Linked DNA regions of Homo sapiens. The protein of the gene in region 5 purifies or fractionates together with the protein of the main gene of each other region. This does not show direct contact. Each region holds a gene or a part of one and is shown on either strand. Other genes may lie near its edges.

Region 1 (3,052 bases), on a different chromosome or scaffold from region 5:
GTTACACATGAAAAGAGCTTTGGACAGCCTGGCCTCGGCTTCTCACCTGAGCCTGACAGGGGGGTGGGGGGAAAAAGTAAAAGGAAGGGTGATCCCTAGGTCCTCTGACCAGCCCCATTCCCCTCTCTGAGGAGGGGAACAGCCCCACAGGTGGCATAAGCAGCAGGGTACCATGGGAAGCCACAGCTGGGGAAGAGAAGCCGAGCCTGAGTGTGGTCCTCAGGAAGGCAGGTGGTGGCGGGACACTGTCCTCAGGCAGTGAGAACATAGAGCAACCTCAGTCTGAAGGCAGGCCCAATGATGCCCCAGGCCCCCAGGCCACAGGACAGGAGCCTGGCATTCCACCACTCCTAGGGATGTCAGCAGGGGAACAGCTGGGAACAGCAGAAAGGCAGGCCCAACCACCCCCAGACCCTCAGGTCTCCGATGGGGGTTAACAAAGGCAAGACACCCCTGGGGACCCCAGGGAAAGAGGTGGGAAGAAGAAAGCAAGATAAATGTTCAGCTTTCCAACCCAGCTCATGGAGCTTTATTCAGACGGGAGTGACAACATCCTGCTTCGTTCTTGCTGCCCTTGAAGGGGCAGGCCCTACTGAGCCATATTCCCTAGAAACCCAATGCCGAAGGCCCATGTTTGACCTCCCACTTTATTCAAGTCGCCTAGGACTAGGGCTGGGGCCTTCCTAGAAGCCCCCTCTCAGAACCTGTTCTCACCCACCCACCACTCCCGTTGTCAGGCCCAGGGAGGACCCATGAATGACAAAAATCATGTAGGGATATTCCCTGGACTGGGAATCCCCTGCCAGCTTCAAGGACATATCATCTGACACAGGGAGAAGCTGACATCTGTCATATTCTTCTGCCTCACGTACACACACACACACACACACACACGCATACGCACTCTTAGGCTTTCAAGAAGGAAGTGATGTGGCAGAGTGACCGCTGGCACGTGTCACCACTCCACTGAAGGATCCACTGAAGAATGAGCTTGCACAAGGGGCCGTCAGTCATGGCTGCCAACAATTGCCCCATGGCCCAACTATATGACCTCTATTCTTGGCTGACCACAGCCCTGCCCACGGGCGAGTATCCATGGTGCTGATTCTTCCAGTTGTCCCAAAACAAATCTTCAATGAATTCTGAGGCCCCAAGGCTTCCCTTGTTGGCCAAGTCACTGATAAGGTTCCACTTGCCTCAACCAGCCTATAGCTCTTGGACAGGGGGAGACAGAGTCAGACGCAACACCTGTCCTGTGTCCCAGACAGTGGGGGAGGGAGGACACCTGGGGCCTCAGTGCTCACCCGTGGCACAAGCCTGAGTACGTTAGCTCTTCTATACTAAGTGCACCAGGCTTGAGCCCCACACAGGGAAGAAGGGAGTGGGTGGGCTGAGGCCTTCAGCTACCTGGGAGCCCAGCAGTGTTCTCGGCCAGAGATGAGAAGGCTCCTTTAAACCAAAAATGTCATGGCTCTGCCCCCACCCTGCTTAGGCAGGGAGGGTGAAGCCTGGAGGGGGGCAATTCCTATGCTCCACAATAAAAAAAGGTTTTTTAAATATATTCATCAAAATAGTTTTCTTTTAAAAAGCCCCCCACTGCTGACAGCCCCACTGGCTGGCTCTCCATCATATCCCTCCCCAGTCCGACACAGCCAGAGGGGTCCTGAGTGGCCCAAGCACCCCTTTGAGTCTTTCCCACCCAGGAGGTCTTTGTGGGCAGGGAGGAGAGTGCCCTGAGGTCCATGGCGTGTGGGGTGGGTTTTCCACTGATGCTCTTCATCACTATTCCAGGCCCAGGATGTAGTTGATGCCTTGGACTACACCAATGATGACAGGCTGCCAGGCTACCAAGTATCGAAGCCAGTCCAGCAGTTGCCCATACATGACGTGAGGCCTCTCCCAGCTGTCAGTGTGTTAAAGAAAAGAGACTCTGTGCAAGAGCTGCCAGGAGTGATCTAGCATGGGTGGTGGGGCTCCCTGGGTCTGCCCCACTTTCCAGCTGCTCCACAGCCTAGAGGAATGGAGGCTGCTTTCTGGAAGGGCCCAGCCTCACTTCCTACTCAGGCAGCCCTCCCAACTTTGCCCTCCCCCTCCTCTTCCTCCTCACAGCCTGTCTGTTGGGGTAAAGAGCTGAATGCAGAGAAGGTGGGAGGCAGATAGAGGGGACTGGTACTGGAGGCAGGGCAGCCCTGAGAGAGGTATAGAGATAAATCCTAGTTCCCCATGACTAACATGCAGGGAGGGCCTCCTGTAACACCTTCTCTAAGAAGGAACTGCCAGTGTAAGATAACACAGCCTGAGGCTGACACAAGTCTATCTATCCGTGACAATGGCTGCAAGGAGGCTGAGAATAGGCAATAATCCTAGAATAGGGAAACTGGGGTTGTATCATGGGGGCAGGACTAGCAGCTCAGCTTCCCACCATGGTTTGACATGTTCTGGTTGGGGGCAGAAGTGAGGGCCCCAGGAGGACCCAAATGCAGGTCACACTGGCCAGTACTTTCTTCCCACAGCCCACTCCCAACAACGACCCCAATAAAGGATACGGATTGCTGAACATCCTCTTGAGGTCTACCTTCTCTTTGCAGTAGGGACACGTTTGCTTCTTTCCCACGATGCACCAGCCACGGATGCAGAACTCGTGGAAGCTGAGCACCGCTGGTCAAGGGAAATGGTGAGAGCCAGGGCGGCACTCCAGCCCCAGACAGTCTTTGAAAGGTTCAAATCCTGCCTTCGCTCTTTATCAGCTCTGTAATGTTGGGCAAGTCCCTGTGTCTGAACCTGTTTCCTCACATGTGAAGTAAGGATAATGATCCCTATCTCACAAGACTGTTATGGGGCAAAATGGAGACAATACATGGCTTTCCCAACATAGGCAGAGAATGGGAGCTGGGTAAATACATGATAAATATTACAAGTGTTATTCAGAACAGAGGATGATGCTAAACTGAGGGATCCCATTAGAGGGTCCTCTTCCCCTGTGACTGGTCAGATCTCAGGTCTGCTAGCACAGCCTCACTAGCTGCAGCCTCAGGTTCCTCTCAGACCCAGC
Region 2 (2,708 bases), on a different chromosome or scaffold from region 5:
TTCTCCTGCACTTCCTCCTCATGTAGTCTGGAGTACTTTCTAAAGGGCTTAGTTGGATTTAAAAAAAAAAAAAAAAGATTGTCTACTTTTCAAAGAAGTAACCATTTGCCAGGGGAAAACATTCTGCTTTTAGGTAGTTTCAAAATTCAGGGGAGGGAGCCTGAAATTTTTGCCATGATTGGTTTGTTAGAAAGAGCAGGCATCAGACTACTTCTGATAAAATTGTTTGGAAGGTCACGACCTCGCAAAAACTTTTCAAGAGCAACAAGGAAGAATTCTGCTGTGAAGAACACAGTGTACGGATCCTCCGCATATTATCTCAACAGAGGACAGTAGCTCAGGAGGCAGCTTCAAACGGTGACCTGTGGCCTGGGCCATCTCTTCGTCATGTGCTTCACTTTTCCCTGTTTCCCTGTGAACTGGCTTCCATGGTTCTGTAGGGTAGTGAGTCGGGGTTGTGGCTGCAGCAGAGCAGGAGATGCTTGCCCGAGTGGGAGCAACCCACCCCCGTGTCCCCAATGCCTCACTCCTGGCTTCTAGTGCAGCCCTTTGTAGACTCACCTCGCAAGAAGGAAGATCTGCCTGGAGACCTGATCCCAGTCCAGCTTTTTGACCATAGGTCATCTTTGTCCCCTTGCTCCTTTGCATCATGTCATAAAATTTGAGGATATCAGCTGATTATTTTTTCTTCCAAGAATGAAAATCAAGCAGAATTGATTCCTACACGAAAAAAAAGCACACGAATGCCAAACCTTTCCTTTGGTGGACTGGACACTAACCAGATGAGAGTAAATTTCTTATCCGTGGACGTATGTAAGCTACTGCTGCTGTGTGCTCTCCACAGCCATATTTATTGTATTAAACAATCAGCACTAAACCTTCAAAAATTGCCCAGTGTTCCTAGTTAAATGTTCAGAGGGGAGAAATAGATATATTTTAAATAATGTTTTGCTAATGAAAAGAGTAAATATTTTTGTTTAAATCAGCAAAAACTTTCCATTATTTTATATTTCCGTCTACTATACCTAAAACAAAAGATTGCCGTTATACCTGGGTTCCACTGATGCAGTCAGCCAGCACCTCCTCACATGCACACATGATTAGACATAGGTGCACTCGGTACCAAGAGTCCATTTTATGGTCCAGCATATACTCCATTGATTCATCATCACTGCATGTGTTCAGCCAGTGTATCTCACACTATCCATACAAATCTAAAATTGATACTGGAAATGTTATTATAGGAGGCAGTGATCGCATTTAAAATCAGGCCACCTACAAGTTTAATTTTCAACATCTCATGTTTTTATTTGTCCCATTACAGCCTCAAATGTTGGTCATAAAAAAAATTTAGGCTACCAAAGTTTAAAGAATAAAATGAAAATTTTATAAGAACTTACATTAAAAACTCAGTAGTTTGCATGAGTAAGAACTCCTTGAGATACACAGATCCCCCCACATTTGTATTTAAAATAATTGGTGAGGCATTGAAATCCAGAATTATAAGAAAGCATTACTGAATATGTGTGTTATAAAATCAATATTATTATAAACAAAATAGGAAGCTAGAAATATTTGGGATCACAGTAATAGCTTTTCTCAAATATACTTTTAGAATTGAATGTACATTATCCTATATGTAAAAAAGCAAATTATTAATTTTAATGGAGCTCTCGATTGACCTTTTTAGCATACTTTTATAGCATGTATATTAAAATAGAATATATTTTAGCAAAAGATTGCCATAAAACCCTGACTTGGCTCATTTTGATATTTGCACTGTGAAGAGGGCTTAAATTCCAATGTAGCAATGTGGTGGCAGACAAATGAAAAACTAGGAAGTTCTTTCACAGTAATGCCTAGTTGTTCCAAATTTGCTATATTTGGAGGTGCTCTACTGGTACTTCCTGCTTGACTCTCTGACCTGTGGGATGCACATTCTTCCTCAGCGCTTTTTCCTTGTTGTGGTGACGTACATTCACTATCTGAGAGTGAAAGACCACACACACCCCTCTTTTTAAAATTATTGTATCTCTTCCTTTTCACTTTGGTTTGAACAAAGATAGTGTCACCTTGTTCCGTGAAAAAGAAAAAGCATAAACAGTGTATATTTAGGGTATATGGGTGATAGCTTATGATGTGTGTCAATCAGTTCTCTGAATCTTTTACTGAAACTGAGACAGGAAAATAAAACTGAAACAAATCATATTTTGACTTTGTTGTGCCATTTTCTCATTGGAGAAGAAATATTCAACCAGTGTTTACAAAATAATGATGGGTATATGTAAGTATTATATCGTGTCTATTCCATCACCAGCACCTACAGTGAAATCTTCAGGGCTGGGGATAAAATAAGTTCTGGTGATTACCAAACATCTGTATTTGTTGAGAGGCAATGTCCTCTTAATACAAAGAGTACTGAACTTTTATGGTATTAGCACAGTTTGTAATTACCTGTGTATTTTTGTGAATCTCTGAATGATGTGTGCCCCTTACTAGAGCTTTAAGCTATGCAGAGGCCAGATGAAGTCTGTTTGGGTTGGCCGCTGCATACCCAGTGTCTGGCATGATGCCTGCTCTCTGTAGGCCCTCCAGCTTCTGAAATGCACAAGCTTGGAGCTTGGTCTAAAGACCCAGCTGTACACATTGCCTCTTGTCTCTAGGGCATCTCCTGTCCCCTTCCCCAGACCTTTTATTTTGCAGAGTTC
Region 3 (3,500 bases), on a different chromosome or scaffold from region 5:
GGTTTTCTCCTATCTCAGTAAATAGAATGTACGATCGGGTTTTACACCAAGACATTCCATTCCCAGGGACGAGCAGGAGACAGATGCCTTCCTCTTATCTTAACTCCAAAGAAGCCTTCCTCTTTCACTAATCCTCCTCAGCACAGACCCTTCCCTTCCCACGAGGGCATATCTCAGGCTATCTCAGTGGGGAGAAACTTTGGACAACACCCAGGCTTTCTTGGGCAGAGGTCCCTGCGGCCTTCCGCAGTGCATTGTGTCCCTGGGTGCTTGAGACTGGAGAACGGCGATGACTTTTACCAAGCATACTGCCTGCAAACACATTTTTAACAAAGCACATCCTGCACAGCCCTAAATCCATTAAACCTTGAGTCAATACAGCACATGTTTCTGCGAGCACAGGGTTGGGGCTAGGGTTACAGATTAACAGCATCTCAAGGCAGAAGAATTTTTCTTAGTACAGAACAAAATGGAGTTTCTCGTGTCTTCCTTTTTCTACATAGACACGGTAACAGTGTGATCTATCTTTCTTTCCCCCACAATCACACTCTATAGTAATCATTTACAATAACCTGTGAGACTGAGTGAATCCTCAATGTGGGCAGATGTTTTAGTCCTGGAACCCCCCACCCTCACCTGACCCACAGATCACTCACATCGGTTTGCACCATCTGGCAGCGCTGTGCCCGGATCCGGCTCACAAAGCCATACACGTCCACCTTCCGTTCTGTATGCATCATGTCCAGCATGGCATCAATGACGACAAAGGTACCTGTACGCCCTACACCTGCACTGTAGCCAGAGAGCAGGGGGTTATAGGGATGGCCAGCCTGCCTTGTGGGAGCAGATAGGGAGGGGCAACACAGGCAGGGGCTCTTCCTTCAGGGTCTAAATCCTAATTCTGAATGGGGTAGAGCTGGGGCTCTCCAGGAGCCAACAACTCCAGTATGTCCTGAATCCTGACCTCCAGCTAGAAGGGTCCGAAGGCTGCAAAAATACATGGCCAGCACTTGACCCAGTCTTTTGGCTTCATAGCAGGGTCTCCCAACTCCTAATCTTGGAGGACTGCCCTACCCTCCTTCCTCAAGTCATATTCTCCACCCTGCACTAGAACTTGGAGTCTCTGGCTGTTGCGCTGGTGCCCCAGTAGGTCATCTACTCTGTGCCAGCCTCCTCAGCCAGGGCCCTTGTGCTGTTCCCCTGCTCTGGCCATGGGGGCGAAATGTGGGGGTGGGGGTACAAGGGTCAGGCCACACTGACCTGCAGTGGACCACGATGGCCCCTGCATACTGAGGGTTACAGGCCTTCACCTTCTTGAGGAACTTGAGCATGCCGATCGGGGTAAAAGGCACCCCAAAGTCTGGCCAGCTGGTAAAGTGGAACTGAGTGATGAGGCGCTGTGGCTTTCTGTTGGTCATGTCGCCCACCTGTGAAGTGAGGAGATCCTGTGTGTTGGCCCTGATACCCAAGGGTGGGCAGTACCAGGGGAGGGAAGGTGACAGCTGTGGTTGTCAGTGACAATGGAAAAGTAAGTGTACCCAGGGGAGTTAGTTAACCACAGACACAAGGTCTCACAACTAGTCAGTGGCAGGGTCAGAACTAAAATGCAGTGCTCCCAGCTAAGTCCTCTTTTCGCAGTACCACACTGCCCCTTGGCTGAAGGTGACCTTTGCTCAGGTCTCCAGGGTTGCCTGGAGGGCCAGGGGCAGGCCCATCACATCCTTGATGTCAGGAGTCTTTGGAGTAGGAAAGGAGGAGAAAGGTGAGTCAAGCACCTAGGAGACTGCACTGCCTCCCCATGCTCCCTTTCCACAGTGCTTGGTCATATCTAAATGATCAGACTTCATCTCAACAGGTAATTTTTCACCAGTCATGAAAATACTGCTCCTTTAGCTTTGACAGACAAGTTCCCCTGAGCCCGGATATCTGGTTTCAGAATTCACATACTGCATACTCAGCAACTCCTGACCACAGCGGGATGATCCAGCCTGTTCCCTCTTACTGGTCAGCAGATCCAACATAAGAACTGAGAAAGGACAGAGGAGACACTACCTGCTGGATGCAGAACTTCCGTACTGTGTAGTCCACCAGGACAGTCACATCCTCTACAGACACCCGAATATTCCCATAGGTCCAGCAGCCTTGGTCTGGCCAGTACTGGGCGCACTTGCACTGGAAAGAAAAAGACATACATTCCCTGACCTTAGACCTCCTGCCCATGGCAGATGCAAAGGGCCTGGAAGGAAGAGCCCACAAAGCCCAGATTAAAGTCCCCCAGAAGGCCCTTTGACCTCTTCTCTATCTCAGTCAGTTGCACACTTACTTATTCAAATTTGCCCTTTTCTCAAGTTCCTTAGCCGCCATCCTATTGAGCACAGTCTCCTAACTTACACACAGCCCTAGCCCCATACTTCTCAATGTTTCCCACCCACACTCCCTTGGTTCAGGGCGAATCTGAAGCCATCTTACCTACAAAATCTGCACTTTCACAACATTTCAGGTCATGCTCTAGGAGAAAGCCTGTTTGAACCCCTCGAACCAGCAGTCTGCTATGAGGGGGCCACCAGGGTAGACTGATGCAGACTGTAAACCTGCCATGAGAGGCCTAGAGCTTTTTCTGTTGCCTGAGCTTTGGATAGCTTCCAAGAGCAAGAGGTTTGGTTGGAGGAAACTAACCTAAAGCCCAGCCCTAGCACTGTCTTCCCATGCCACTGTGGAGCTGTTGATCATGACACCCGATACCCTAGGATCAAGGTGACTCAAGGGCCATCCTTGAGAAACACGGTAACAAATAGGTATTCCTCGCTGGGGCTCGACCCCAGGACCCAGAATTGGCTCTGGCTGTGGCCCAGTGATAGAGCTGGTTAGGCCAGGCATGCACTTGGTAGCCACAAAAGGAAAAGGCCCAGTTAGGAGGCTGCCTCCAGGATTAGGCCAAGGCCTCAAATTCCCTTTGGCTTGCAGGGTCTCAGTTCATAAAGCTCCCTCTGCTGATCCAGGATATACCAAAGGCCTCAGCAGGTGGGGCAGAAAACCAGGGAAATAAGGAACTAGAGAAACCAGGGGAAAAAAGCTCCTCTGTGGGCCGGGCGTGGTGGCTCACGCCTATAATCCCAGCACTTTGGGAGGCCGAGGTGGGTGGATCACGAGGTCAGGAGATCGAGACCATCCTGCCTAACACAGTGAAACCCCGTCTCTACTAAAAAAAACACAAAAAATTAGCTGGGCGTGGTGGCGGGTGGTACTCGGGAGGCTGAGGCAGAAGAATGGTGTGAACCCGGGAGGCGGAGCTTGCAGTGAGCCGAGATGGCACCACTGCCCTTCAGCCTGGGCGACAGAGCGAGACTCCGTCTCAAAAAACAAAACAAAACAGCTCTCCCTCTCCCTCTCCCCACGGTCTCCCTCTCCCTCTCTTTCCACGGTCTCCCTCCGATGCCGAGCCGAAGCTGGACGGTACTGCTGCCATCTCGGCTCACTGCAACCTCCCTGCCTGATTCTCC
Region 4 (3,358 bases), on a different chromosome or scaffold from region 5:
AGACACCCAGGTCACAGACCCTCCACCCCCAGGCCTCCCAGAGCCCCTCACCCTCTGCCAGCCACGGTAGCCCCCCAGTGGCCTCTTTTTCTTCCATCTTCCCATGTGTCCCCAGGTTCCTGTTGACAGCTGTCGCCTTGCTCTCCAGCTACTCCATCCACCTGCTACTCAAGTCCTCAGGGGTCGTGGGTGAGCCTCACACCAGCCTGGAATGGGCGGGAGCTGGTGGGTAAACTGGGACAAGCTCCTGACTTCTTGACCCTGCTCCTGCAGGCATCCGTGCCTATGAGCAGCTGGGCTACCGTGCCTTTGGGACCCCAGGAAAGCTGGCAGCAGCCCTGGCCATCACGCTCCAGAACATCGGAGGTAAGAGCAGTGGGCAGGGGCAGGCAGTAGGGAGGTGGACAGCCCTGAAAGCTGGCTGGTTGGGCTGACCTCAGCGCCTGCCTGCCCGCCCCTCTCCCCACAGCCATGTCCAGCTACCTGTACATCATCAAGTCTGAGCTGCCACTTGTCATACAGACCTTCCTGAACCTGGAGGAGAAAACCTCGTGAGCCCTGGCGTGGGGAGGGGAGGGGAGGGGTGCGGTGCAGTGAGGAGGGGTGGGGTGGGGTGGGGCTGGGTGAGGGTGGGGGGGCCCAGGCTGGGCTGGTGGGAGAGACAAGACAAAGCAGACAAGAAGCTGGTGGAGTGGGGAGAGTTGCCCGCAGAGCCAGCATTCAGTTCACACTCACTTGGGAAGCACCTTGGAGACCCCCCTCCAGAAGGGGCTTGTGGGGCTAGGGGCAGGGTGCAGCTGAGGAAGCTGGGCCTCTCCTCACCCCGGACCCAGCCTGTGAGCGTGGGAGGCTCAGGCTTAGCTCTAAGCGCCTGCTATTCCTGACCATGGGGTTGCCCCCCCCAACCAAGATATTAAGCCCAGGTGTCCCAGTTGCCTATCACTTTAGCCAGCATTGACTGGGCATCAAACGTGTTTTGTGGGACAGAGGGGACACAGCCAGGCCCTGCTCTTGACAGCCCAGCCCGAGCAAGCAGAGGGGCTGGGAGGCTGAGAGTAGCTCCGGCAAGAGGGAGAGCCAGGATTCTGCCGCTGGGGCCCTGGGCCTTTCCCAAGGAGTTGGCCTCAGGGCTTGCCTTTGAGGATGGTCCTGGCCCTTATCCCCTTGTTTCTCTGTGCCCCGTATCCATTCCTGGTGGGTAGAGGAGGGGGCCGGATGAGGCAAGGCCCAGATGCCAGAAGGAACCGCAAGGAGCACAGGTTATTGCAAGTGCCAGAAACCCCCGTGGAAAATACCACCTCCCTCTAGAACCAGGTCCCTCTTCCTCCTCCCACCCACCTCCATCCAAAGGCTGGGCCCAGACCTGTGTATCCTGAGAAAAGCAACAGCAGTGCCTACAATAGAGAGGGTCCTGAGCATGAGCTGTGTGCCAGGCTGGAACCTTAGTTCTCATGTCACCCTGAAGGACAGTACTGAAGGCACGCCCTTTGTTTTGTTTTGTTTTGTTTTGTTTTGTTTGTGAGACGGAGTCTCGCTCAGTCGCCCAGGCTGGAGTACAGTGGCACAATCTTGGCTCACTGCAACCTCTGCCTCCCGGGTTCTTGTGATTCTCCTGCCTCAGTCTCCTGAGTAGCTGAGATTATAGGCGTGTGCCACCATGCCCGGCTAATTTTTTTGTATTTTTAGTAGAGATGGGGTTTCACCATGTTGGTCAGGCTGGTCTCGAACTCCTGACCTGATGATCCACCCACCTCAGCCTCCCAAAGTGCTGGGATTACAGGCGTGAACCACCGCGCCCAGCTGGGCATGCCCATTTTGCAGATGGGGAAAGTGAGACTCAGAGCTGTGGACAAACATTCTTCAGATGTCACTCAGTGGCACCATTGGTAACTCCAGCAGAGGGAGGCAGGGGCCCCATCCCAGGCTGAATGGATTCTGACCCTGGCTCCCGACTCATGTCCCTGCAGGGACTGGTACATGAACGGGAACTACCTGGTAATCCTTGTCTCTGTCACCATCATTCTGCCCCTGGCACTGATGCGGCAGCTTGGTGAGTGTGGAAGGGTCAGAGCCTTGGAGGGGATGTTGGAGGCATACACCATGGGAGGGGCCCCAGGTCTCAGAGTGCTCCCTCCACTTTGCAGGCTACCTGGGCTACTCCAGCGGCTTCTCTCTTAGCTGCATGGTGTTCTTCCTAATTGCAGTGAGTCACCCTCCATGTTGGCTGAGAAAGCGGGCAGCGGGTCTCCTGGGGGAGTTCCCTGTCATCAGGAGGGGGCAGGTGTCTCTGGGAAGCCTGGGCCAGAAGGCAGCTCCACCAGTCCTGATCTAGATGTGGCTTCATGGTGACTTCCCAGGCAGTCCAGCCTGGGAGTCTCTGACACCCTCATCCCTCCCCACTCCAGGTCATCTACAAAAAGTTCCACGTGCCCTGCCCACTGCCCCCCAACTTCAACAACACCACAGGCAACTTCAGCCACGTGGAGATCGTGAAGGAGAAGGTGCAGCTGCAGGTCGAGCCTGAGGCTTCAGCCTTCTGCACTCCCAGCTACTTCACGCTCAACTCACAGGTTCTGACAGGTCAGGGCAAGGCGGGGGCCCAATGAGAGTGGCAGACTGCCTTGACACAGCCCCGTGTTTCCCCAGACAGCATACACCATCCCCATCATGGCCTTCGCCTTCGTCTGCCACCCCGAGGTGCTGCCCATCTATACTGAGCTCAAGGAGTAGGTGTCTGTGGCTGGGAGTGGGGGTGGGGATGCCCTGAGCTGGTTTGGGGAGAATGGATGTGGTCCTGAATGTGGAGAGGGGAGTGACAGGAGCCAAGTCACTTTATCTGAGATGTCCTTGGCAGCCATGAGAGGTGATTATGAGCAAGAAGGAGACTCCCTCAGATGCTGAATGGTGAAAGTATGGTGCCAGAGAGAGCTTGGGGCACATGGGGGTCTCCCAATGTTACCCAGCTTGTCACCAACACCCACCCCCCCACTTCCCCACAGCCCCTCCAAGAAGAAGATGCAGCACATCTCCAACCTGTCCATCGCTGTCATGTACATCATGTACTTCCTGGCTGCCCTCTTCGGCTACCTCACCTTCTACAGTACGGTGGCACCGGTGGGCAGAGGCCTAGGCTAGGCTGGGGGGAAGGGGCTGGTTGTGGCCATGGTGCCCTCCATACCGAGGCGTGTGGTGCCTGGCTGTGCCTTGCCGCTGTGGAGGTGAGTCTGCATGCCAATCCCCACAGTGTTGGGGTCCCCTAGGCAGCTCAGATCCCACCTCCTTCCTGGGGCCACCTACTGACCACCCTCCCTGCCTGCCACAGACGGGGTGGAGTCGGAGCTGCTGCACACCTACAGCA
Region 5 (4,221 bases):
ATGGAACAGCTCTCTGCCATGCCCAGGGATAAAACAGCCATGATTTGGGAAAGGAGGGAGTATGGGAATGTCTCTCGGAGAAAATGAGAAACGCTGAAATGTCCAGTCTGGGCATTTGGAGGCGAGAGGACAGGAAGTGAAGAACATTGCAGGGAAGGAACAAGGTCTGCCCTCGGGTGTTGGGAGGCGTCTGGTGAGAGCTTGGTTTGGTGGAAGCAGTAGGTGGGGAACAGGCATAGATCCTGCTTTGGGGTGGGCGTCTGTCTCCCCAGGGCTCACAGGATGGGAGCGCAAGCTGTCTCCAGGCTGGGAAGAGGAAGCTGACACCAGGAACCCAGGCTGTCTCTCCATGGGCACAGGCTGTCTGTGGGCACATGCAGAGTGGGCACGGGCTGTCTCCAGGGCACAGGCACTTCCAGAGGGTGCAGGCTGTCTGGGGTGGGCACAGGCTATCTGAGGACACCAGCTGTGTCTGGAATCACAGGCTGGGTCTGGGGACACAGGCAAGATTTTTCTAGTGACACAGGCTCTCTCTAGAGCTGTAGGCTGGTCTGGGGGGACACAGCGATGCCTGGGAACATTGGCTGTGTGGGGGCAGGGACTTTGGGGGTCATAGAATCATCTGGGACCATAGCCTGGTGTGGAGGTGCAGGCTGATCTGAGGGCACAGGCTGGTGTAAGGATGCAGGCTGGTCTGGGGGTATAGACTGGTCTAGGGGTGCATGTTAGTCTGGGGGTGGAAACTGTAGCTGGGGACACAGGCTCATCTGGGGGTACAGGATAGTCGGGGTACAGGATGGTCTTGGGGCACAGGCTGTAGGCGGGGGCACAAGCTCTCTTTAGAGGTGCAGAATAGGGGTACAGACTCGTCTGAGGGGGTCTCAGGTCACAGCCTGGTCTGGGGGTACAGGATGGCCTGGGGGCACAGACTCCCTGTAGGCACATTCTGGTCTTGGGGTACAGTCTGTAGCAGGAAAGCAAGCTCTAAGGCACAGGTTCTCTGGCGGTAGGCCCGTGAGGGACCTGGGCCATATCTGGGGGATCCCTCTATCTCTCAGCAGTTTCTGAGAGCAGAGGACGAAGTGGGCACTGGCGCTTACTGCGAGGCAAGCTGTCTCCTCCGGGCTCAGGCTTTTGTCCCTGGGGCGGGTTTTCTCCTCGGACACGGGCCCCTCTCCCTCCCTGTCCGTGGGACGCAAGCCCTGCGCTCGGGGCGGCGGCTGCTCACCTCCGGGCAGCTCCGCGGGGCCGCAGGTGTCCCTGTCCACGGGCACGTCCGCCTGCCACAGCCGCTTGGTGCACGCCTTCCACAGCCCCAGGTGGGCCGCTTCGCACACGGCGCTGCCGTTGGCCTTGTAGGTGTTGAGCTCCACCCAGAACTCGGTGCCCACGGACAGCACCGCCAGCGTGGCGCCCACGGCGGCCAGCAGCAGCGCCAGCTTCACCTTCCCCTCGCGCTCGGGCGTCAGCCCCGACCTGCCCTGCCCGTGCGCCCGCCGCCGGCCCGCGGCCCCCCGCCGCCGGTTCTCCTCTTGCAGGAAGAAGTTGGACCACATCATCTTATGGCCGGTGGGGTCGGGAAGGGGGAGGAGGCAGAGCCGGCGAAGGGCCTCGAGGGGCGGGAGCGAGGAGCGGCCTGGGGTCTTGAAGGGGGTGAGGGACTCAGTTTCCCCTGGGTATGAAAGAGGGAGAGCCGAGTCCTGTCTGGAATCTCAAATGCGAAAGTCGAGATTGCTTCTGGGGTTCAGAAGAGAAAAATGATCCCCAGGGCTGGGGAAGCCTCTGGGGTTCAGAGGAGGGTCTAGGTTGCCCTCAAGAACTTGGCAAAGAAGACGGGGCCCAGAGGAAAAACAAGGCCCCCACCCTGAGGTTTAGAGATAGAATTCGGCTTCCCAGGAGGGAGTCCCCCCAAGAGCTCCAGAGGAATGAGAACTGGTGCCCGCTGAAGCTCCCTGCAGCTCCAAGGGGCTGCTTTGGGGTCCCCGCTGGGGGGTTAACAAAAGGGAAACTGGTTTTCCTGAGAGATCTGAGCACCCCACTAGGGCTAAGAGTTTGGGGTACCCAGGAAGGGACCTGAGGTCCTGTGTGTGTTTGGAGGAGATGTGGCCGGGGTTCCCTTGGGCTCAGAGTTTGAGAACAGAGGACTTGGGGACCCTCTGGGATTCGGAAAAGGAAGACCTGGGGTCCCGGGAAGCTCCCAAGGGGAGGTCGGAATTCAATCCGGGTCTCAAGAGAGGCAGTAGGACCCCGGCATCCACAGAAGGAGAAGAACAGAGCCCTGGCTGGGGCTCAGAAGAGGACTGGGCCTCGCTGGAATTCAGGAAAAGGGGATAGGGGTCTCCCCTGCCATTCAGAAAAGATCCGAGGTCTCTACTGAGCCTGGAAAAGGGGCCGGTGGCCGGAAGACAGAGTGGAGTCCAGAGGCGGGAGGCTACGGGGCCTCCCCGAGGGCTGGGGCAGATGGGACCGGGGGCCCTCCTGGGGCTCACACTATGGGGCTGTGGTCCGCACTGCGGCTCGGAAAACCAGGACTGAGTCCCCCCAGGGTTCAAAGGCCAACCGCGACCCGCAAGAGACGCTGCGCCCCTTCGGGATCAGTCCGTCTCCCTCCCCCGGGCTCCCAGGGCCTTCCCGGTCGGGTTCGCGCCAGGCTCAGCCCCAGGCCAGGGCCCCCCCTCGGGGCTCCCACCCCCGACTCCCGAGCAGGGGCCCCTCTCGCTCTCCTGCCTCGGCCCCGCGCCGACCCCAGCTCCGCGCTGCCTCCGAAGCGTCCGGCTGTGCCCGCCACCGCCACCGGCCTGGCCTCCGCCCGCGCCCGGCCTCGTCCCCACCCGCCCACCCCCCACCCTCCACCCTCCACCCTCGGGGCTATTTCGGGCTTGACCCGTAAATAACACCCGCACCTGTCGCCCGGCGCCTGTTGCCATAGGGATCCCGGGTGTTTTAAGGGGACGAGGAAGGGGGGAGGGAGGCCGCCCGGGGAGGAAGGGGCCGAGCCTGATGGGACTTTCATTTCACTAAGGGGCAAGAGCGGCGCCGAGAGTCCCAGCTCCGCAGTCTCCCGGGCAGCAGGAGACGGGCGGGGCAGCAAGTCTGACTGGGGTTACCAGGGAGGAGGGGCGGGAGGCAGGGCCCCGGGTCTCAGGGAGGAGGGCCTGAGGCCAGGAGTCTTGGGTCCCTAAGGGAGAAGAAGCCTCGGTACCCCACTTCTGAGTGGTAGAGGAAGAAGGCCTGGGTACCCAGAATCTTGGATCTGAGAGGAGAGGAACCTGGTCTCCTAGGTCCTGGGCTCCTGAGTCTGAGGGAGGAGGGGCTGGGGGCCTGAACTCCTGGGTCTGAGGGAGGAGGGGCTGGGGTCTGGACTCCTGGGTCTGAGGGAGGAGGGGCTGGGCCTGGGCTCCTGAGTCTGAGGGAGGAGGGACTGGGGCCTGGACTTCTGGGTCTGAGGGAGGAGGGACTGGGGCCTGAACTCCTGGGTCTGAAGGAGGAGGGGCTGGGGGCCTGGACTCCTGGGTCTGAGGGAGGAGGGGCTGGGGGCCTGGACTCCTGGGTCTGAGGGAGGAGGGGTTGGGGGCCTGGGCTCCTGGGTCTGAGGGAGGAGGGGCTGGGGGTCTGGACTCCTGGGTCTGAGGGAGGAGGGGCTGGGGCCTGGACTCCTGGGTCTGAGGGAGGAGGGGCTGGGGGCCTGGGCTCCTGAGTCTGAGGGAGGAGGGGCTGGGGGCCTGGACTTCTGGGTCTGAGGGAGGAGGGACTGGGGCCTGAACTCCTGGGTCTGAAGGAGGAGGGGCTGGGGGCCTGGACTCCTGGGTCTGAGGGAGGAGGGGCTGGGGGCCTGGGCTCCTGGGTCTGAGGGAGGAGGGGCTGGGGGCCTGGGCTCCTGGGTCTGAGGGAGGAGGGGCTGGGGGCCTGGGCTCCTGGGTCTGAGGGAGGAAGGCCTGGGCCTGGACTCCTGGGTCTGAGGGAGGAGGGGGCAGGGGGCCTGGACTCCTGGATCTGAGGGAGGAGGGGCTGGGCCTGGACTCCTGGGTCTGAGGGAGGAGGAGGGCCGGGGAGCCTGGACTCCTGGTCAAGGCGTTGGCAGACCCAGAGTCCTGGGCCTCAGGGAGGAGACTGGGGCCAGAACCCTGGGTCTTGAAGGATGGAAGGCCTGATTTCCATGTTGGAGAAAGCGCAGGCCTCAGGGCAGGGCCGGCTGTCAGGGGCACAGAATGAAAGCAGCAC
Region 6 (3,500 bases), on a different chromosome or scaffold from region 5:
AAATGCAGGTGTTACTTCCATTTGAAGCACTATTAAAAAAACTGGATAAAGATCAGCAGCAGCTACAGATTGTTGCAAGTTCTTGGGATATCCTTCTAGCTTAGGAATATGGCTCCATGGCAGAATTTATGATCAGAGACTCATCATGTCTTCAAAAATTTAAACAGAATTATGTATAATTGCTAGCATGCATCTCCATAGAAGCTATGTTATAGTGAGTGATTTAATTAGCATTACAATTTTCAGGAATTAATTACCTAATGTTTTCCCCTCCCAACCCCTATAACCTGAAAAAAAAAAAACCCAACCTATAAATGGATTGTGTATTTTAAAGGTAATCATTAGAAATTTTATTTCATAATACATTTGCTTTTAATGATTGTTGCACTTTTAGTCTATTAGTTGAACATTAAGTTTTCTTTTTACCCAATGACTAAAAATACACTGAAAGTTGAAAACTTAAATGACATTTTCAGAACAATCTATTTTGTTGCTTTTGTGTGTTTTTTTAGTTTGGCAGTCAGCTTTGAATTTTAAAATTTCTTTGAAATTTTATGGGTTATTGATTATTAGAGTCAGTAATTTAAAATCTGAATGTAAATTAACTTGGCCACATGCAAATTAATTGTATAATTCATTTAAGTAGTCATTTATGATTAGTTGGCTTTAACTTTTTATTCAACAGCCAGCATCCTTGTTTCAAGCCATGGAGTTACATTCCTGATGGAATCATGCCAATTTTCTGGAGGGTAGTGTATTGGACGTCACAATTTTTAACATGGTAAGTTACAGTAAATGATAAAATTTTTAAAATTTTGGCTAAAGGAATAAAATGTTTTTCAATCAATATAGTTTGGAATTTATTTATGTGTCATATGCATTCTGAATCTTTCTACCCATTATTTTTATCTTTCTGCTGTGCTCCAAACTCATAGTTATCCACTGTCTACTAAGCATCTCTTAGATCTGCAAACAACTGCACTCTAAAACTGGAGGCACTGAACATTGCAAGAGAAAAATTACATAGCAGAGTAGTGCTTTTGTAAAGTCATGTCTATTAAATTCAACTGGGCTCTCAACATTGCCAGACTTTCCTTCTTTGTTTTTTTTAGTTTGCTTTCTTTCCATTTTCTACAAGAAATATTTCCATTCACTTCAAACTTCCGTCCTCTTTATGGCTTTCTCTCTTGTGCTCCCTAACAACAACAACAAAATCATCTTTACTCTTAGCCTCTTAGCAGATGACTACTTTCCATCCAGCAGTTAAAACAGGAGTCATCAGACGGCAGCTCTTTCAGCTTCTCACCAACAAATCTACATACCTACCCATCTTTTTTTCTTTCCCCTCCAAAGATGGAAGAGTCATGCTTGTTAAAGCCAATACTTCTGTCACAGGATCCTTAGGGGTGTTGTTTTGCCAGCTGGAAACCTCTATGGCCAGTAGCACCTTTGCCTGAATTTTACTCAGGCCCGCTGGGCTTATTCCGCTTACTCAGCCTGGCAGGTTGCACTTAGCTCATGCTCCTGGCTCTGATCTCATGACTCCCAAGGGCGAGCCAGGCATGGAGTGGTGAGGGGTGTGTGAGTGAGTGAGCATGGGATCCAGCCACTGAGCACAGCCAGACACGCTGGCTGCTGTGGCAGGGTGGGCAGCTCCAGGCATCGGCACAGGTGTCGGCTCTGTGAAAGCCTGTGGCTGGGTCAGATGCACTGCAAGCAGCTTCTGCTGTGGGCACCTGCATCTGGATGAGAGGAATGTGGTGGTACCCAGAAGCTTGGAGATGCCAGAAACCTCAGAGCTCCAAAGAGGGTGTCACAGCCCTAGCTTGGGGAGCCCCTAGATCTGGGCTCCTGGAAGGGCCACAGCTCTTCTCTTCTCGTCACCTGCAACATGGCAAGTGGCAGGGCCATGTTTCAGCCCTGTTTGTGTTTCAGCTCCTTCAGTTCTGCCATTCAGCAGGTCCTGAGTTCTTGTCCTACATCCAGGAAGAATGAGGTATGCAGACAACTGGAGGGTGAGCAAGGTGAAGAGGTGCTTTATTGAGTGATAGTACAACTCTCAGGAGACCCAAAGTGGATAGCTCCTTTCTGCAGGCAGGTTGTCCTGACAAGTATAGCTCTCAGTGGAGAGGAGCCCCAGAGTGGGTAGCTCCTATCTGCAGGCAGGTTATCCCAATCGTCTGTGCAGCCCCCAGTAGAGAGGAGACCTGAAGTAGATAGCTCCTATCTGTAGTCAGGTTGTCCTGTCATCTACCTAAGTGGGGCTGAGTCTGGGGTTTTTATGGGCTTCAGAGAGGAGAAAGTGTGCACTGATTGGGCCATAGGCAGACCTGGATAAAGCACCCTAAGTTCTCACTCTGGTCCACAGAGCTGATGGCCTGGCCTCCATGCTTCAGGCTGTCCCTGGCTTGAAGGTGGGGCTTCACCGGGGACCTGCCCACTTCTGCCCAGGAGCCTATCTGCCTCCTGCCACCATCAATCATGTCATTTATGGCACCCAGGCTGTTCATGCCAACCAGTGCCTGCAGGCCCATGCTGAGCTGCCCTCAGCCCCACTGTCAGCCTCCCTTCTGTGCTTGTTGATGTCCAAAGTCCAGAGTGGGCTGAGGCAGCCGGGGGCTGGTGTCAGTGCTGCCCTGAGCATGTGTGCACACCCAGCTAGGTTACAACAGTGCCTGGATTCAGTCACAACTTTTCTCCAAAATCAGAGCAGGTGTCAGGAGCAGGTACTTCCAAGCCTGTAGGGGTATGGGGGCTTTCTGGGTCCCCGAAAGTGCAGGGATGCCTGGGTCCACAGCCACAGCTGGGCAGCTGCAGCTATGCCCAGAGCAGGGCTCCTGCCCCGCCAACTCGGAAGGGGGTGGGGCTCCCACCTCTTCCCAGCTCCTGCTAGCTCCATGGAGTGCACAGTCCCCGCCAGTCCCCCCACACTGCGGCCAGCAACTTTGCTGGGGGCCACTCCAGACAAGCTGCTGCTGCCATCACTTCTTCCTAAAATATGGATCCATCCCCTTCAGCTCTTGTTACATACTTGTAGCTTTCAATTTCAACGAAGCATGCACATTTCTCTCATCTTTTGAAAAGAAAACAAACAAAAATGAAAGTCTCTCAATTCAGATTCCTTTCCAGCTTCTGCCTTGTTGATCTGATCACAACTAAATTTTTTTAGAAACTTTTTAAAATTGAAGCATAAGTTCGTACCGAAAAATGCATAGATTGTGTTTAGTTTGACTTTTTTCAAAGTGAATACACCCATACACCAGCACTCAGATGATGTTATAGAACATTAGCAATGCCCCCAGAAGCCTCGCTCACGCTTCCCTGTGTAGTCATCCCGCACTCCCCAGAAGTAACCATGATTCTGACTTCCGTCACCATAGATTAGTTTTTGCCTGTTTATGAACTTTATAAGCATAGAATTATACATTGTGAACTTTTTTGCATCTCTCTTTGCTCACATATTTGGGAAATTCATCTATGCTGTGCTGTATGTATCAGTA
Region 7 (3,500 bases), on a different chromosome or scaffold from region 5:
ACTAATCATGGGACAAACTAATATTATGTGCCTCCTGCTGTGATGCAGTATGAAATACACAGCATCACCTATGAAGCACCCTTACCAAAAATGTTTAACATGAATCTAATCAAGCCAATGGACCCTATTTACAGTTTATAGGAAATAAACTGTAAATATAAAGATATTTTCTCTATAAAGATAGAGAAACAAACACAATGAGGAAACACTTTATAAGAAAACTAGCCTGGCCAGGCATGGTGGCTCACATCTGTAAGGCCAAGGCCAGAGGATCACTTGAAGCCAGAAGATCAAGACCAGCCTAGGCAACAAAGTGAGACCCTGTCAAAAAAAAAAAGAAAAAAAAAAAAGGAGGAAGGAAGAAAATAAATTATAAATTAGCCTGGTCTCATTAACAGGAAATTCTAATATGGGCTAGATATTAGGTATTAGGGACTTGTTCATTTTCTTAGATATGATAATGGTATTATTATTATGTAGAAGACTATCCTTATTCTTAGGAGATGCACAATGAAGAATTTAATTGAGTGCCATGATGTCTGCAACCTACTTTCATTTAGCTTAGCTAAAAAGAGTGTATGTCTGTATACACGTAAACAGATAAAGCAAATACGATCAAACTTTAACAGCCATCAAATCCAGCTCATAGGTATGTATTTCATAGTTCTATTCTTTCAATTTTTCTTTATGCTTGAAATTTTTGTTATGAAAAATTATAAAGAAAAATACCAAAGCTCTCATTTTTATTTAAAAGTCTATTAATAGATTTCCCATTCCACTCTCTCTGTATATTCTACTAATAATATTATTAATATTACAATAATTAGGGATTAAAAAGTTAGAGCAACAATGACGAAAAGCAAAGTATAGATAGAAGACTGAAAGATAATATGACAAAAAGTTTAACAGAAATTATCTCTAGGCAGTGGGACTACTGGATTTTTTTTCTTTTTACTTTTCTATATTTTCTCAATATTTTACAGTACATGTTAGACTTTTTAGGTTAAAAAATTGTTTAAGGTAACAGCTTTTTTTTCTTATTCTTTTTTTTTTTTTTTTTTTTTTTGAGACAGAGTCTCGCCCTGTCACCTAGGCTGGAGTGCAGTGGCATGATCTTGGCTCACTGCAACCTCCACCTCCAGGGTTCAAACAATTCTCCTGCCTCAGCCTCCTGAGTAGCTGTGACTACAGCCATGCACCACCATGCCTGGCTAATTTTTGTATTTCTAGTTGAGATGGGGTTTCACCAGGTTGGCCAGGCTGGTCTTGAACTTCTGACCTCAAGTGATCCACCCGCGTTGGCCTCCCAAAGTGCTGGGATTACAGGCATGAGCCACAGCACACAGCCGGTAACAGCTTTTGAACATAAGCACTACAAAGACATACATCATCGTGTTAGTACAGAACTTGCAAAAAAATACACTGAACAACTACATTCACTGTGAATATGATCGAAACAGCCATCTCAAATAATGTAATAACTTTCCCCACCTATATAATCCCCAAACATTATGCAGAAATAAAAGGCCAATGATAAGTTTTGGGCCTTTCAAGGGAGATGAGGAGTTTCTTACCTTAGTTTTTGGATTATAATTCACGATTTTATGTCTTTATATAAAAAAAAATTCTCTGCAAATTGTAGGAACTGAGAGTGTAGGATAATAGCAGGAAAAGAGTACTTACCCTCCACAGACCCCTGGTGCCTTCTTGTTGGTATATATCGATAAAGCTTCCAATCATGCTCCCTTGGAACAAGCTTCCTTGAGCCTGCATTCGAATCTAAAATGAAAAGAGGTGAACATCTTATTTTGTCAGAGAGAACCAAAATGCTAAATTCATTTTAAGTTCATTTAAATTCATTTTAAATTCATCTAAAATTTAAAAAGAAGTATTCAGGAATCCCAGAAAAATATCTGCTATTATGATAAAGTTAATTAGTTAAACTGTATAGAAAAAGAATTTGTGTCAAAGTGTATTTTATAAAAATGGTTTTCATCGGCCTCACATTCCTCACACTAAGTCTATTATTTCTGGAGCTAGAAGAAAATTTGGAGAAAAGAAAGATCAAGTACTCAGCAGGACTAAAAAATGACTCATTTAGTGAAAAATTAGAAACAACTTAATATCCAAAAACAACTACACAGGTTGGTTACAGAAATTATACATTCATTTAATAGAATACTATGGAGCCATAAAATTTTGTTGTACAATGGTATTTGCTGACACTGAAAGATATCAAAAATTAATTGCTAACCAGAAAAAAAATTGCGAAGTACTATATCATTTTTATAAAAAACATGTAAACTTAAAAATATCCATAAGCACAGCAAAGAGACGAGGTGAACATATAAAACTAAATACTTACAGTGGTTTATGTCTGAGTGGTGAGGCTACAAGTAAGCATTTTTCTCTTTTGTGTTTTTTCTGCCTTCCATATTTTTCTACATTAAACATGCATTGCTTACGTAATTATAAAAATGAAAAATGTGTTTTAAAATATAATTTTATGTTTATGAGACCTTAAGTTGAGTTCTATTTATAAAAAGCATAATATTATATTCTGCCAAGTGGCCTTTGAGAGCTGCAAGAAGGAAAGATAGCATTAAATGGCCATGTAAAAGGTTTGGTACAATTTCCCACAGACTCTGCACACATACAATCCTAGTAGTCAGTCACTAAATACTAGCGGCCCAAATGTAGGCCTGATTTTTATGAAGCACCATGCTACCATTCTAGGTTTCAACAAATGTCTTTAGTAAGTCATGTAATGGCAACATGCTTTTATGCAGAAAGTTAACTGTTACTACTAAGAGTTTTCAAATATTATAATTATAAAAACCTAAACCCATTAAATCAAGATACAACCTATCACAAAGACAAATGAAAACTACTAATACACTGTGGTAAGTAGAACACTTCTTTAAGGAGGTGATTCCTGACAACAGAGGGGCTAGCGTGAGGCAAGTGAAGTACTTTTCTTAGGCATGAAATGTAAGGGAGTGCAAGAAAAACTCAGTAATCAAGATAAATGATGTCTCAATATGATATTTTTTAACCAAAATTAATCCACAAAAAGCCATAATGAATCAAATATCAAATTTAACTAAAGCTAGGACTCAACAGGGCCAGGATTAGGGTAAGGTGAATGAGATGAGTTATGTGAAATTTTGGTATTTGGTTCATCATGAATTTTTTGCGTTAATTTTGATTGTTTAAAAATACTACATACAAATGTTGTTTATATTGATTACTGAGTTTTGTGGCACCTTCTTACATTCTGCATCAAAGGGGACTGCCTTACTTGTTTTGCCCTAGTCCTGGCCCTGTTTATGAGCCTGGTCTTGAAGGACAAATTCACCAGGAAAATGAGAAAGACGTTTCAGGAAGAAAGTGTTACGTGCACAAAGGCAAAGAAGCAGTACATAGTAGATCAGATATGGATTTCGATAGATCTCTCCAGCTTCATCTGGAGATGGGTTGAGGGAGTGGGGTACACACTA

Evidence for each region.
Region 1: the proteins of CACNG6 (region 5) and RNF121 purify together in Homo sapiens (affinity purification with mass spectrometry; one large-scale study listed by BioGRID and IntAct). This does not show direct contact.
Region 2: the proteins of CACNG6 (region 5) and CDS1 purify together in Homo sapiens (affinity purification with mass spectrometry; one large-scale study listed by BioGRID and IntAct). This does not show direct contact.
Region 3: the proteins of CACNG6 (region 5) and PTPRA purify together in Homo sapiens (affinity purification with mass spectrometry; one large-scale study listed by BioGRID and IntAct). This does not show direct contact.
Region 4: the proteins of CACNG6 (region 5) and SLC38A3 purify together in Homo sapiens (affinity purification with mass spectrometry; one large-scale study listed by BioGRID and IntAct). This does not show direct contact.
Region 6: the proteins of CACNG6 (region 5) and LMBRD2 purify together in Homo sapiens (affinity purification with mass spectrometry; one large-scale study listed by BioGRID and IntAct). This does not show direct contact.
Region 7: the proteins of CACNG6 (region 5) and SLC25A14 purify together in Homo sapiens (affinity purification with mass spectrometry; one large-scale study listed by BioGRID and IntAct). This does not show direct contact.

Annotation. Positions count from the first base shown.
Region 1 is NC_000011.10:71,995,046-71,998,097, reverse strand, and holds the end of RNF121 (E3 ubiquitin ligase RNF121), read right to left. Parts: intron 2,659-3,052; coding exon of another isoform or gene 2,649-2,658; coding exon 2,547-2,648; intron 1,904-2,546; coding exon 1,783-1,903; 3' UTR 501-1,782; downstream 1-500. UniProt on the Homo sapiens protein: E3 ubiquitin ligase which accepts ubiquitin and transfers it to substrates thereby promoting their degradation by the endoplasmic reticulum-associated degradation (ERAD) pathway which is a pathway involved in ubiquitin-dependent degradation of misfolded endoplasmic reticulum proteins.
Region 2 is NC_000004.12:84,649,127-84,651,834, forward strand, and holds the end of CDS1 (phosphatidate cytidylyltransferase 1), read left to right. Parts: 3' UTR 1-2,208; downstream 2,209-2,708. UniProt on the Homo sapiens protein: Catalyzes the conversion of phosphatidic acid (PA) to CDP-diacylglycerol (CDP-DAG), an essential intermediate in the synthesis of phosphatidylglycerol, cardiolipin and phosphatidylinositol.
Region 3 is NC_000020.11:3,019,981-3,023,480, reverse strand, and holds part of PTPRA (receptor-type tyrosine-protein phosphatase alpha isoform 1 precursor), read right to left. Parts: intron 2,173-3,500; coding exon 2,053-2,172; intron 1,428-2,052; coding exon 1,261-1,427; intron 793-1,260; coding exon 657-792; intron 1-656. UniProt on the Homo sapiens protein: Tyrosine protein phosphatase which is involved in integrin-mediated focal adhesion formation.
Region 4 is NC_000003.12:50,215,271-50,218,628, forward strand, and holds part of SLC38A3 (sodium-coupled neutral amino acid transporter 3), read left to right. Parts: intron 1-115; coding exon 116-189; intron 190-273; coding exon 274-366; intron 367-469; coding exon 470-551; intron 552-1,967; coding exon 1,968-2,050; intron 2,051-2,144; coding exon 2,145-2,203; intron 2,204-2,405; coding exon 2,406-2,570; intron 2,571-2,646; coding exon 2,647-2,726; intron 2,727-2,999; coding exon 3,000-3,100; exon of another isoform or gene 3,101-3,218; intron 3,219-3,322; coding exon 3,323-3,358. UniProt on the Homo sapiens protein: Symporter that cotransports specific neutral amino acids and sodium ions, coupled to an H(+) antiporter activity.
Region 5 is NC_000019.10:53,990,216-53,994,436, reverse strand, and holds the start of CACNG6 (voltage-dependent calcium channel gamma-6 subunit), read right to left. Parts: upstream 2,801-4,221; 5' UTR 1,560-2,800; coding exon 1,229-1,559; intron 1-1,228. UniProt on the Homo sapiens protein: Regulates the activity of L-type calcium channels that contain CACNA1C as pore-forming subunit.
Region 6 is NC_000005.10:36,138,388-36,141,887, reverse strand, and holds part of LMBRD2 (G-protein coupled receptor-associated protein LMBRD2), read left to right. Parts: intron 1-685; coding exon 686-781; intron 782-3,500. UniProt on the Homo sapiens protein: Recruited to ligand-activated beta-2 adrenergic receptor/ADRB2, it negatively regulates the adrenergic receptor signaling pathway. May also regulate other G-protein coupled receptors including type-1 angiotensin II receptor/AGTR1.
Region 7 is NC_000023.11:130,356,919-130,360,418, reverse strand, and holds part of SLC25A14 (brain mitochondrial carrier protein 1 isoform 1 precursor), read right to left. Parts: intron 1,780-3,500; coding exon 1,684-1,779; intron 1,373-1,683; coding exon of another isoform or gene 1,244-1,372; exon of another isoform or gene 727-1,243; intron 1-726. UniProt on the Homo sapiens protein: Transports inorganic anions (sulfate, sulfite, thiosulfate and phosphate) and, to a lesser extent, a variety of dicarboxylates (e.g. malonate, malate and citramalate) and, even more so, aspartate and glutamate and tricarboxylates.